Homo sapiens: one gene and its partner. The protein of the gene in region 2 interacts with the protein of the main gene of each other region in a pairwise test. Each region holds a gene or a part of one and is shown on either strand. Other genes may lie near its edges.

Region 1 (7,026 bases), on a different chromosome or scaffold from region 2:
TTTTTTTCCAAAATCTCAGTCTTTTCATTCTATTTCATCATTTCATCTAGTCACAAACTAGATGCTTCATAGTTGTATATATATAATTAACTCTAGAAAATATCTGCTATTTATTCCCTTAATAGTTCATATAGAAGTGATGAACATCTTTTCATTGTTCATCTTTTCAAAATTTACTCCTTGGTAACTCCACAGTTCTAAAATAATGTATGAAGCCAAGTCACACAAGCTTTATAATGTATTCATAAATAATTCCAAAATAAACATATGCAATACAGTATAGAAGAAGGAGGGGACATTGAGACAATTCCTAAAAGAGATATGTCTATTTAAGAAGAAAGATAGGAAATGAGAGCAAACAGGATTTGTAAATGTGCCACACTTTAAATTTATTTTAAAGTCAAGGATTTCAATTGACTACATATAAATACAGTACCCAAAAAGGCAATGCTAATAATTATTAGTGCATATAAAAAATGTTTTTAACCTAACTATATCCAAGCATTAAAAGCACAACTGAAGAAGCCAAATAATACTGTACGCACAAAAGTGTTCCTTACTCAAGTAAATATGTTGATAGTATGGTACATCAAACTATTTATTACCTGTATATTCCAGAACAACAGTGAGAGCCTAAACAGAGAACACTGTAAATCATTTGCTCAAATCAATGAAAAAGCAACCAAATAAAATTCTCTGGTAATAATAATGACCAATTGCTATGCAACTGATTGTATCACAGTGTAAATGTAAATAATTAGCATAAGTTTTTCAGACTACTGAAGTAAGTGGACCAACCATTTCATGATCATATTTCAATTATGTAATTGACCATGAAATATTCTAATTTTTTAACCTGTAAAGATTCTACTCAGCTATCACTATAAAAATAGAATAGTTTATTTACATAAGAAAACATATTTCCTTTTTTTGTTTGTTTTTTGAGACAGAGTAGCTGGGATTACAGGCACCTGCCACCACGCCAGGCTAATTTTCGTATTTTTAGTAGAGACAGGGTTTCGCCATGTTGACCAGGCTGGTCTCAAACTCCTGACCTCAAGTGATCCGCCTGCTTCGGCCTCCCAAAGTGTTGGGATTACAGGCATGAGCCATTGCACCTGGCCAAGGAAACATATTTCCTAACAGAGTAATAGAAATTACTGTAAATGGTCACAATATCACTAGAACTGAATTTTGTCCCTTTCAAAAATATGTCAGAATAATAAAGAGAATATAGAAAACAATCATTTTTTTCAAAGTTTTTTAATTGTTACCAATGCCATTTTACTACTTTTTATCTTTTTCATGCAGTTTCAGAAGAAATTAGCAATATCTAACTCTCTTTTCATAGTCATAGTGATTTCAAGAGTTTCAGTCTCTGGGATATAGAATGCTTTGGCACTGGTACATTCCACCAGCTCAGGAAGAGTTATCAACAGCTTCCTAAAAAAAAACAACAAAATAAAACCTTAGCTTCCTAAAATGATGTATCACTTTCAATAAGACAATTGCAAACAACATATGCCACTAGAGTGTTAGAAAACAACCCCCCCCCAATATTTAGATAGTGTAAATATTGGATCAAAAATATGCCTAAATAACACAAACAGTATACCAGTTTTTCTGGACTTAAAAATCCAAGCAGTTGTTTTGGCGCCCCTATTTTTCTCCGAATTGACCTCATTTTACATAGTCTCAGGCTATGTTTACAGGCATAGAAATAGAACTATGCAACTTTTAAGTTTGCTGGACAGATCTGTTGCCACTCATACTTATGTATAGATGCAATGTGGCCGACGGATACAAATTTGAAAATTGGAATGGCTCTATGACACTTCTGCTAACATAGATTTAAGCAGAGTCTCTACCACAGGTGTAGTTTTTGAAACTGAGGCTGGGAATGATTTCAATACCAAATCAATGAAAGTGCTTCTCTCTCCTTGCTTCTGATTCTTTCTACTTACACATTGACAAAAATTCCCTGTGATAGATTGCTAGGTTTATTTTGTGGTTTATAGTTCAGTTGCTGGATAGTTTTATGCTTTAGATGCATTGCTGGGATGAGACATCCATAATTCTGCCATATTGGCATGAATCTAAATTATGCACGGGGTCAGCACATGCTGGTTTTGGAAGAAAATTAAATGCATGAAACACTTGTTACCTCGCATTTTCAGTAGAGAAGGTCTGAGTATCTCTATAAAAGGTGGACAGGATGCTCTTTTAGAAGGTATAATATCCAAATAAGTAAAGGAATATGGTATTTTTAGGGGCACTTATTGGGTTCTTGAATTGAGAACTAGTATGTATTTGAAAACAAAACCCTTGAAAATCAATTCCTTCTTTATTCCTTTGCAAAAACCTGAGTTCAGAAGACTGGGTTCATTAAAAGTATTTATTACACATTTATGGAACCTGAAGGATAAATTTTCTGTGACTCTTGTTCCATTCCATGTGGGGTAGGAAAAACACTTCGCCTGAATACGTTGCCAAACGTAGTGGCAATGCATTTTAATGTAGACTGTAATATTTGGCATCTCAGGAAAAAAAAAGTGAGTGCAAAAACCGTGTAGAGTCCATCCTTTAAATCTGTTTACTATATAGGTTGTGCTAGACTTAGATTTCCTTTATACTTTATTCAATAAATGATAATATATTCACTTTTAAAAGAAAGCAAAGCTTAGTATGGTAGCTTCGTTGCACTAAAAGACAACTATAAATCAGCTGAAGAAGGAGTTCCAATGATAATGTGCACTTCTCTGTCCAGAGAGAAATAAATTCAAAAGAGACAGTTAGTGGCCATTGGAATGATCCATCTACGCCTGCATTTCTGTGTAGTTCTAAGTAGTATGGCTTCACATAATAAAATGTTGAACAGTAGAACTGTACAACTGATTTAGGCTCTTAGGAGAAGGGAAATATTTTCGTCGTCTGTTTTACTGTCTTATTATCTGTACTGAGATTTATATTTAAACAAAATAAAAATTCTCCAAATACTTATCCATGTACAATTCATGGAAGGACATTAATGTATCTTATCTTGGTGCTCCCTTAGTGTCTAGTGGAAGACTTTATAAATGTTGAGTGAATAAATAAATGAATGAGTGAGTAAATAAATGAAGCAAGTATTCAGGTCACCACAAAATAACATTTGAATAATTACCATAGATTAGTACTATAAGATATGAACAAACATTTAAACCCAATACCTCTACTTTTACATTGACAATGTATTTGCATTTTCAGAAGTTACAGTCTAGGCAGTGATCAAAGGTTCATCCAGTGTTAATTTTCATTAGAAATTAAATGCAAACAATAATACATGAATGTAAATACAAAAAAAATCTCTACAGTGAACTCAAGTTTAGAGACTTACATGCTTATACTTATATTAGAGAGTTTAAGTTGATGTTGCTCACAAGAGATTTAAGCAAAGGACATCCTGGTTCCCAGCATATTCGCATAATGAAATTTTTATCTTATATAATTAACAAAATTATTTGACTTACATATCTGGGTTAAAAACCTTTTTAAGGTTTACTGAAGGAGACATAACTATTTTCAAAGAAAGTGCAGAAATAGCTACTGAGCTGCAACTCAACTATTTCATTTAGAAAACTTCTTTTTTAGCTATCAGTCTTTGAAAATCAGTCAATTCCCAATCCAAACTAAAGGAGCACAGCAAATGTGTGAGTAATCTAAAGCAGCACTCAACCAAAAATTAGCTTACATTTGTCTTTAGAATGTGTTATTATTATCACATTCAAGGTATTCATTTATGAAATTCTTAGAATTCACTTAGAAAAATAATGAAATCTCATATGAAGACTTAAGAGATCCCCGTAAATTATCCAATTTTCTCCGTCTTTCCTCCTCTCCATTTACTCCATGTTGGGTATCTACATGCCAAAACAACCAATTGAAAAAAGTGAAGAATTTGGTAAACTGCTTTATTTATTTTGGTAAATACCTGGGTTTTATTGGTAATTCGAATGAAATTGACTATTGTTTGACAGAAACCACTGGTCAATTCAGTTAAAATAAATTCGCTTGTTTCTGCCTTATAGATACAAGAACAGAATGCCCTCTCAAATCTTTCTCAGATTGGATAAACATAGCGTTATATGATGTCAAAGTTAGAAACTAAAGAAAGTAGGTGTGAATATCAATAAACTCGAAAACAAGACACATTCCCGATAATGCAATTTCAGAGAAAAGCATGGCTCTAAAGGATTCTCAAGTATTTAGGAAACATGATAAAATCCTTAATTATATTTTCTGTCTTCTATCTTAGTTAAGCAGGTTTTCTTGAGATGGTACCTCTCTGCACTGCGCATTTAATATATAAGTACATTATGATCCAAAGGACCTAGTGTATAGCCCATGTTCTATGTGGGAAAGTACTTTTAATCCAAAATGTATCCTCACAGAACAAACATCTCATGTTATAAAAATTGTATTCAGTATTTCTGCTGTCTCCATCAATCTTTAGGTAGCTGCTATGGCTGTGCCGTCATTACAGATATCCATCAGAATCCACTAAATGAAAGTCTCACAGACAGTGAGAACTGCTAGGGAAACGGAAATTAACCCCATGGTGTGTAGACATGTGTGTGCTTTTAACAAGCTTGCAAATATCTTGGAAGATTGTTCATTTAACCAATTTTCCTTGTAAAGGTTATGTGGAAGAGTAAATTCGTGTATAAAATGCAACAAAAGGGTACAATACTCCTTGAAGTAAACAGCAGAAATAGTGAATATAATTTTTATAACATGAGATGATTGTTCTGTGAGGATACATTTTTGAAATGATGTAAATAATAAGAAAACATTTGATATATATTTATCTGTAGACCATTTTGGGTTAAATGCATTTACTATAGAAGCCAAGATTAAGCTACATATGCATATTGGGTTGTTTACACATAGGAATCTTTTGTATGAAGGATCTTCTTGTCATTTTCTTGAAGTCCTAAGCTCAACAAAGGAGAATTATAGGTACTGATAATGGAAGGAAGAAAATGTGCCAGCAACTGCCTGCCTCCCAAATCCAGTTTGAAATGTTCATGAGTTACAGAGTTAGGACCATTGCAGTGAACCAGTATGTGCTCACTGCTCTATATCCAGATAAGATGTGCACAAAGCAGTGAGGTATTTAGATAGTAATTGATGGCAAGATCTTTTTGTTGATTTAAATGAAAACACTCAAATTTAACCTTACAGCCCCACAAAATGACAAAAGTATAAAGATATTGCTTCCCTTATGTAATCAATGTACAAAAACCACATATAAGACTTACAACTTAATGGCATTTTCACTTCTAGTTATTTTTTCTGATAGATAAACTGCATCTGGGTGTCAAGAATTGTGTTTTAATAGCATTAACCCACTCCAAATGCACGGATGCAAAGTAGAAAAAAGTCCAAGTATTTCCAAACATATTTATGTTTATATTAATGTAGATCAAACATCTGAATACAAAATTTTCCACTTTTCTTCAGACTTTAGGGGTGATACAAAATAACTGTACATTTTAAAAAATAATATTGACTGAAGACTCTTTAATATTATAATACACTATTCCAGTTCTAAGTTTTACTCACTTCTGAGGAGTACGAAGGTCAAGGATTGTTTCCTGGATATCAATTTGAATATCAGAAGGGTTTGTATTTGGCAATTTAATTTTAGCCTGAAAGAGAAAATGAGAAGAAAAATAGTGATATCTTGGAGAGCAATTAATTTGAAGAATATAAGAATATATGGGGAAAAGAGACTAATATTTATTGTCAACTATGTGCCAGGCTATGCCCTATCTTTATGTCAATCTTGAGCAGCAGAGATTATTATCCCCATTTTACAGATGGAGAAACTACAACAGAGAAATTTAGTGAGTGGCCCAAGGGCAACCTCCTGTAATCTGACTAAGGTTTCTGGCTCCAAAGCTATACAGAAACACTTTGGTTACTTGACTGTAACCTTCATTTTCTGAAGGTACATAGTAGTACACCTGTTAGAGTTGGGGACCTTCAACTGCCTTTATATCAGTTGGCAATTTGTATAAAAAAAGTTTAGTTCTCATGTTGGGTATGAGTTGGTGATGCCATCTAATAGTCTTCTGGCATAAATTTCCATACCACATTTTCTAGGGAGGTGTGGGAGTTCAGGTGTTATGTTATCAAAACAAAAGAGAAATAACAATATGACTCCCACCTCCCCAAAAGGACAACATATTGGTTTAGTAAGATTTCACTTTAAATGTTTCATCTCAATTACCACATGGCCCAGCAATTCCACTCCTGGGTATATACCCAAGAGCACTGAAAACAGGTTTTCAAGCAAAAACATGTACATAATGTTTTTGCTTATAGGAGCCCTATTCATAACAGTCAAAAGGTGTAAGCAACCCAAATGTGCATCAACTGATGAATGGAAAAAACAAAATGTGTTGTATCCATACAATGGAATATTATTCAGCCATAAAAAGGAGTAAAGTACTGTTATATGGATGAATCCTGAAAACATTATGCTAAGTGAAAGAAACCAGGGACAAAATGTCACATATTATAGGATTCTATTTATATGAAATGTCCACAATAGGCAAATTTTTGTTTTTGTTTTGTTTTTTTGTGGGAGACGCAGTCCCGCTCTGTTGCCCAGGCTGGAGTACAGTGGGGCAATCTCGGCTCACTGCAACCTCTGCCTCCCAGGTTCAAGCAATTCTCCTGCCTCAGCCTCCAGAGTAGCTGGGACTATAGGTGCGTGCCACCACGCCCGGCTAATTTTTTGTATTTTTAGTAGACGGGGTTTCCCCGTGTTAGCCAGGATGGTATCGATCTCCTGACCTTGTGATCTGCCCGCCTCAGCCTCCCAACGTGCTGGAATTACAGGGGTAAGCCACGCGCCCGGCCCACAATAGGCAAATCTATACAGACAGAAAAGAGATTGGTGGTTGCTAGGGGCTGCGGAAATGGAGAAGAGGGAAGTAACTGCTTAATGGGTATGGTGTTTCCTTTAGCACTGATGAA
Region 2 (7,902 bases):
AATGCATTCTCACTTGTTTTTACTGGTAAGACTGAAAACTTTCACCCACTAACCTTCAATTTCTATCCATGGCTAATTCATTGGTAATTTCTTGCAACTTTCAGAAAAACAGTAATTCTCAATTTGACACAGGTTTGCCAATATGCATTTAAAGACCTCTTACACTTCAAACCTTGGACTTGCAGATATGAAAAATAATAACATTCTCAGTATTCTACTCTTCACCTTTGCCCTGCCCTGAGCACTATCTAAAAACCAATGACAGAAATGAATTGCAAACATAGCATGAAGCACTGCTGCAATTAATCAACCCAGAGCCCAAGGGAGGAATTGTTTCTATTTTTAAATGCACTGTTACTTTAAGGGAAAAGTCTGTGGAGAAATATGAAACCAAGCTGCATAATGAAAATAAAAATGCATTTGGTGTCTTCATCTGTGCAAAGACAGTAATCCTAATGTACAAGGAGCACTGTTTTGTTGACTACTCAGTTTGTCTGTAAATGAAATGACCGGTACTCAAGACAGAATCCCACAGAAAGCTCATCTGCTATTCAAAGAATTAGATCCGTCAGAAGGACAAAACACGAGAGTACCCATATTTCAATGCTATTTTTATAACTCCAGATAAGGGACTATCGTAAGTAAGCAGATGAATAGATCCCAAAATCACCCTTCAAATCTTTACCTAAAAGATCCTGATTAGTAACTAACGTGGTTCAGCCCGAAAAATGATCAACTGATTACTTAGCATTTGGAACCAACTGTCCACAGTTATAGATTGTACCAAATCCCACAAAATCAAATCTGTTTCTCTTCACAAATGACAACACTTCATGTCATTAAACAGTAGCTAACAGTCGCACTGCTTATGGTTAAGAGTGACAAGGAGCAGGTGCCAAGCCAGCAAGGAAAACAAGTAACGGCTACACAACAGGAGCTAAAAAGTATTCTACCTGTTCCCCCAGACTGCTTTCAAGAATCTGACCCAACAGAATTTTTTCCCGAAACAATATGCAGTTTGCGGGGGGGTGGGGGGAGGGGACATTCGTTGGTGATATGGGCATCTAATTTAATCTGTAAATATTTAATGTACTCAATGAGTTTACTTACTATCACCATGAAATATGCTATACTATCTACACTGCTATAAATGCATCTAAAAATACATCCATTACTAGACAACATTCAGTACAATGTACAATAAACACTACATTCAGTGTTAAACACAACATTTTACATATAGCTTAGCTATTTAATATCACCACCAGAATCTGCTAAAGGTAGCAGAATGTTTGCAAACTGGATAAAAACTGCTATGCTCAACACGAAAAGCAAAGAATCCCCAATCTTATCGCCTCATGATTTCTTTCCCCAAATTTGGCAAAACTGAGCTTGAACACCACACATTATAGAATGGAGGCATTGCTTCTCTAAGCAATAATGTCACAAACCCTGCTTCAGAGTCTCTCTTCAGTGAAAATCTCTGAAGAAGGAAATTCACTAAATTGTATTCCATCGATCAACAGGTGATTCGTGGAAACACAAACTCATATTCATTTCCAATGAAAATTAATATTGTAAACTCTCCCGTTTTTTCACATATATATATTTACAAGCTACTGCATTATTATATTGAATGAATTCCAACCGATTTCTTCTCAGAGGCTTACTAGAAAAATGCCAAATATTCAAATTATTTTGGGGCGTTAACCCATACTGTTGCATGGAACAGAACGGAATTAATAAGGATCCAACAGTTACCACTTTTCAAATGCAAATATGTTGCCATCTAGTAAATACAGCCCCTTTTTAAACATCCCTCAGTGTCTATACAGTTCAGGGCCCTACTTTTGTTTCTTTGAAAATCAAAATTCGCGCATTACATTGAGGCATTATCTCAACTCAGCAACAACAACTAAAATAGATACTAACTAGTCCAGCCTGAGTCTACATCGTACAAGACTTTTGCTTTATTTTTTCCTCCCATTTTAGACACACTGTCCCTAAACAATTCTGCCAAAGGAAACAAACCCTGCAGTGATGAAAAGAATCACGGACACTGGGTTCCACGAACAATAAGGTCGTGGGCTGGTCACCTGCCCGCCTCGGGCCTCAGTTTTCCTGTCTGTAAAATGTGGCCGCTGGACGAATCACCTATGGGGTCCCATCCGGCCCTCTCCCTCCCGGGTGCCTCGCAGCCCGCCCGGGCTCAGCTGACTGGTGCTGTGGCCAGGGTGCCCTGCCTGCCGCCGCTCTAGATGGAGGAGAAGGGGGGCGAGGGAGGAGAGGAACTTGGACTTGCAACAGCTTCAAACAGGAGCCGGCGACAAACTTGAAGCCGTCCTCCTAACAATAGGAAAGAGCACTCCCATTTTCCTGGCTCAAACTTGCGGGACCCCGCGAGGCTGGATCCTCCCAGCCGCCCTCTCGGAACCCGCTTTACCTTTCTCCCTGTTTGGTGTTAGAAGGAGGAGGGTGCAGGACCGTTTGATTCCCTTCCATCTCCACCACGCACTTGGTGTTCAGTTCCAGTTCTGAAAGCAGAGAGAAAGGGACGTTGCAAAGTCCAGCATCCGCGCCTCCAGCCCGCCCGCCCGCCAGCCGCGCCGAGCGGGGCTCCGTCCCTGGAGGCGGCCGAGCCTGGAGACGGCGCCCCGGGCACCACGGCCAGCGCGGACGCCGCCTCCGCCCCGGCCCCCCGGCCCCGGCCGCGCTCTCGCCGTCCCGGCCCCGCAGTTTCTAAAGTTGCCCCCGCCCTCAGCCCGAGCAGAAATAAAAAAGAGCGGAAAGCTCCTCACCTCGTCGGTTCATGGGCCGGACCCGGACGGCAACTTTTACCTTGGTATCCGACATGTTGGCTGCGCTCGCCCGGCCGCTCGCCGCGCCCGCTCGGCCTTAGGCGGCCCCTCACGCGCGGCGCCGCCGCCGCTGCAGCCGCGCGCCCCTCGAGCGCGGCCGCCGCCGCTCCGCCGTGAGCTCCGAGAGGCAGCGCCGAGGCGCGCGGGCCATCCCGGGGGAGCGCGACGCGGGGCACGGCCGCGGCCCGGGGAGGGGCGGGCGCGCGGGGCGGGGCGCGGCGGCGGCGGCGGCGGCGGCGGGCGGGGAGGAGGCCTCGCCGGCGGGCCCAGGCGCAGCTCTAGCCGCGCCGCCCCAGCCGAGACCGCAGCGCCGCGGCCCCTCGCGGCTGCCCGGGGCCCCGCGCCGCCATGTTCCGCGCCCGTCACCCGCCGGGGCTCGGGAGAGGCCGGACACGGCCACGCGCGGCGCCCCCTGGAGCGGCGGGACGGCAGTGAGAGGAGCGGCGAGCAGCGCGGCGCTTAGGGGAGGCTGGAGTCCGGGGCGGGACGCATTGTTTCCCCAGGGGACCTCCCAGGCCAAGCCTGCACCGGCGCCCGCGGGGCCCCCCCCCGGACACCGCCGTGAGCTCGAGCCGCCTTCTGGGGCCGCTGCCACCCGGAGCCCCGGGACGGCAGCAAGGACCACGGCTCGCCGCGCTGGGTGCGCAGGCCTTCCCCTCCGAGTCCCGGCACGCCGCCCCCTCTGTCCCACACGGAGCCTGCAGCGGTATTTTAAGATCTCTGTGGTGAACCGAGACTAGAAATGAATCTGTGAATCCACCACCGAAACAGTGTATGTTTGTAAATAGTGCTCTCCCTTCCTTTCCCGGCCTCTCTTGTCTCGGGAGGGATGTCAAGTGGGCTGGGAGGGCCATTAACTCTTACATAAGAATTTAATAGCAATGGATTCTGTCATCCTGCCAAATGCAGACCTCGCTGCCAGGGCGGAACTGGGCGAATCCGATTTATTCTGTTTGGTTCAACAAGTGCTTAAGGGGCGCTCACCGAGTGCCAGGCATTTTGAAGCGTACAGAAGTCAAAAATCCAGAGTTTAGATCCAGGAATCTTTCGATTTTGCTTAAATCTAGAAATCCACTTATTGGAAGATGCATTGAGGTTTTACTGTGTGCAGGGTGCTGTTGAGGACACACAGAAACATGAATAGCATGATGCAGAGGCACACGCTAAGGTGGAAGAGAGGGCGTGGAGACTTATTATGCTAGACAGTGTACGGCAGGTGCTAGGAGAGGGGTCCGTCCGCCTCCAACCGAGGTGATGCTACGCTTGACCCTCGAACAACACGGGTTTGAACTGCACGAGTCCACTTACACGTGGCTTTTTTTCAACCAAAATCTGATTGAAAATACAGTATTCGTGCTCTGGCACAGTGCCTTACGCCTGTAATCCCAACACTTTGGGAGGCCGAGGCGGGAGGATCACTTGAGGCCAGGAGTTCGAGACCAGCCTGGGCAATGTAAAGAAACCCCATCTTGCCAAACATAAAAATTTAAAAAATAGCCGGGCATGGTGGCAGGTGCCTGTAGTCTTAGTTACTGGAGAGGCTGAGGTGGGAGGATCACTTGAGCCTGGAAGGTTGAGGCTGCAGTGAGCCATGTTCGCACCACTGCACTCCAGCCTAGGCAACAAAGCAAGACCCTGTCTCAAAAAAAAAAAGGGAGAAAAAAGAAAAGACAGTATTTGGCAGGTTCAAAACTGAGAGATCCAACTTTTCCTATTTGTGGGTTCTGCAGAGCTGACTGTGGGACTTGAGTATGCATGGTTTTGGATGTTCCTGGAACCAGTCCCCTGTGTACACTGAAGGACAAATACTTCAGCCCCACCTTATTGTAGAGCCAGCTATCTCAGTCTACCTCTGAAGGGCCTGTTGCATCTTTCCTCCTCTCCATTCCTGCTGCTGCAATCTCACTTTACCTGTCCATTCACTTGTTCAACAAATGTGTTCTGAGCGCCCTACTATGTTACAAACACTGTTGTAGGCTTTAGGCTACAGGCTCTCAGCTGCTGCTCAGAAAGAGGTGAAATTTCCAGCCCTCTGAGGCTAAGAATCTAGGTCTGTGCTTACCTCTTCACTTTTGGGCTGCTGAGACATCCTGTTAACCCTCCTAGCTTTGCCTCCTCTAATCACTCCTAAATCCAGCTTCCAGACTGATTTTTCACAAAATTAAAATTTTATCCTTTAATCGTGCATGGTATTCTATTGTTCAAAAAACTCTCAGGCTGGGCACGGTGGCTCACGCCTGTAATCCCAGCACTTTGGGAGGCCGAGGCTGGCAGATCACCTGAGGTCGGGAGTCCGAGACCAGCCTGACCAACATGGAGAAACCCCGTCTCCACTAAAAATACAAAATTAGCCAGGCGTGATGGCACATGCCTGTAATCCCAGCTACTTGGGAGGCTGAGGCAGGAGAATCGCTTGAACCTGGGAGGCGGAGGTTGCGGTGAGCCAAGATCGCACCGTTGCACTACAGCCTGGGCAACAAGAGCCAAACTCCACCTCAAAAACAAGCAAACAAACAAAAAACCTCTCTGTTTAATATTACCTCCCACCATTCCTGAAATTCTTTATCCAGGACCTTTTCACAAGCAAGATACCATCCCTATGCTAAGCCATTGCTCTGGTAGTTTCTATCAGTGGGAATTGTAGAGGGTTGAATTTGTAACTCCCAAAAAGGTATGTACAAGCCATAACCTCCAGTACCTGTGAATGTGACCTTATTTGGAAACAGGGTCTTGGCAGAAATAAAATTAGGATGAGGCCATACTGGGTTAGGATGGTCCCTAAATCTAATGACTAGTGTCTTTTTTTTTTTTTTTTTTTTTGAGACAGAGTCTCGCTCTGTTGCCCAGGCTGGAGTGCAGTGGCACGATCTCAACTTACTGCAACCTCCACTTCCAGGTTCAAGCGATTCTCCTGCCTCAGCCTCCCAAGTAGCTGGGACTACAGGCATGTGCCGTCATGCCCAGCTAATGTTTGTATTTTTAGTAGAGATGGGGTTTTGCTGTGTTGCCCAGGCTGCTCTCGAACTTCTGACCTCAGGTGATCTGCCCACCTCGGCCTCCCAAAGTGTTGGGATTACAGGTGTGAGCCACCGCACCTGGCCTGACTAGTGTCTTTATTAGAGAAAGGAGAGGGGGATTTGGATACACAGGGAGGAAGACCATGTGAAGACAGAGGCAGAGATTGGAGTGATGCAGCCACAAGCCAAGGAACACCGAGGTTTGCCAGGAGCCACCAGAAGCTAGGAGGAGGAAAGGAAGCCTCCGGAGGAAACACGGCTCTGCTGACACCTTGATTTGGGACTTCTAGCCACCAGAACTCTGAGACACTAAATTTCTGTTGTCTTATGCCACCCATTTCATGGTCATTTGTTACAGTAGTCTTAAGAAACTAATACAGAGGCCAGGCGCAGTGGCTTATGCCTGAAATCTCAGCACTTTGGGAGGCAAAGGTGGGAGGATCACTTGAGCCCAGGAGTTTGAGACCAGCCTGGGCAACATAGGGAGACTCTGTCTCTACAAAAAATAAAAAATTAGCCAGGCGTGATGGCGTGTGCCTGTGATCCCAGCTACTTGGGAGGCTGAAGCAGGGGGGATTGCTAGAAAGCCTAGGTCAAGGCTGCAGTGAGCCATGATTGTACCACTGCACTCCAGCCTGGGCAACAGGGTGAGACTCAGTCTCAAAAAAATAAAGAAAGAGAGGAAGGATGAAAGAAAAGGAAGGAAGGAAGAAAGGAAGGGAGGATATACAAAATTTAATCAATCCCTTCTCTGTCTCATTTTCTCCTTCTCCCTCATTCTCTGCCAGATCATGAAAGCCTTGAGTGCCTAAGAAATTTCATGTTTATTGTAAAGGCAATAGGAACTGAATGAAGCATTTGGATTTGGAGCCAGGGATTGACATATTCAGAGCATTGATTCAGGGTAATTAATTTGGCAACACTGTATCCATCCAGAGGACTATTGTAGTCATCCAGATGAGGTGATGATATCATCATCCAGAGGTGATGATAGCATGAACAAAGCCAATGATAGCACAAATGGAGCAGAAGGAACAGACGCAGAACTTACTGCGAGAAAAGTGGAACAATTTAGCAACCAATGGGATGTGAAGATTGAGGGAGGCAAAGGATTGCAAGTGACTGAGAAAGGGATTGGGAGGATGATGGCCCATAACACCACGAATAGTTGAGAAGAAGAATAGGTCTTAAGGTGAGAGGGGCATGATTCATTTGGTGTTACAGGTTAGAAAAACAGTTCCCATTGGTTCTTTGCAGAGTGACTCTTCTTTCTGCTTTCCTGACCCTTTCCAACTTTAAAGACCAGATTAGTCCTCACCTCTTCTATGAAGAGTTTACTAGTCTGGGCATGGTGGCTCATACCTATAATCCCAGCATTTTGGGAGACTGAGGTGGGCGGATCACTTGAGTCCAGGAGTTCAAGACCAGCCTGGCCAACCCAGTGAATCTCTGTCTCTACTAAAAATACAAAAAAATTATCTGGGCATGGTGGCACATGCCTGTAATCCCAGCTACTTGGGAAGCTGAGGCATAAGAATTGTTTGAACCGGGGAGAAAAGAGGTTGCAGTGAGTCAAGATCATGCCACTGTACTCCAGCCTGGGTGACAGAGTAAGACTCTGTCTCAAAAATAAATAAATAAATAAATAAATAAAAGTTTACTAAACATTTCTTTTTCAAAACAGTTTAGCCTTACATCATTAGGAATTATGTCTTTTTAGCGTTTGAAGGGCCTTTGGGAGTCCTGTGGACCTTTTTACAACAGCCCCCAAAACGGCCACCCATTCCGTGCTTGGATTCCGCTGACAGAGTTCTCAAATTGGAAGAGAAGCTGAACTCAGTCAGGGGACTCCTCAAGTTCTTCGCCTAGGAAAGGCCTCCATGAAGAATCAGATTTGCATCCCTGGGCATTCCACCTAGTGACAGAAGTGCTGCCTTCTCCTGCTTCCCATGCCAAATCTAACTCCCTTTTTTTTTTTTTTTTTTTTTTTTTTTGAGATGGGGTCTTGGCTGTATCACCCAGGCTGG

The links.
Region 1: the proteins of KIF13A (region 2) and DNAAF6 interact in binary tests that used the Homo sapiens proteins (3 or more experiments, as listed by UniProt).

What each region holds. Positions count from the first base shown.
Region 1 is NC_000023.11:107,237,586-107,244,611, reverse strand, and holds the end of DNAAF6 (dynein axonemal assembly factor 6), read right to left. Parts: intron 5,691-7,026; coding exon 5,605-5,690; intron 1,444-5,604; coding exon 1,314-1,443; 3' UTR 365-1,313; downstream 1-364. UniProt on the Homo sapiens protein: Plays a role in cytoplasmic pre-assembly of axonemal dynein.
Region 2 is NC_000006.12:17,984,611-17,992,512, forward strand, and holds the start of KIF13A (kinesin-like protein KIF13A), read right to left. Parts: upstream 3,026-7,902; 5' UTR 2,854-3,025; coding exon 2,799-2,853; intron 2,535-2,798; coding exon 2,444-2,534; intron 1-2,443. UniProt on the Homo sapiens protein: Plus end-directed microtubule-dependent motor protein involved in intracellular transport and regulating various processes such as mannose-6-phosphate receptor (M6PR) transport to the plasma membrane, endosomal sorting during melanosome biogenesis and cytokinesis.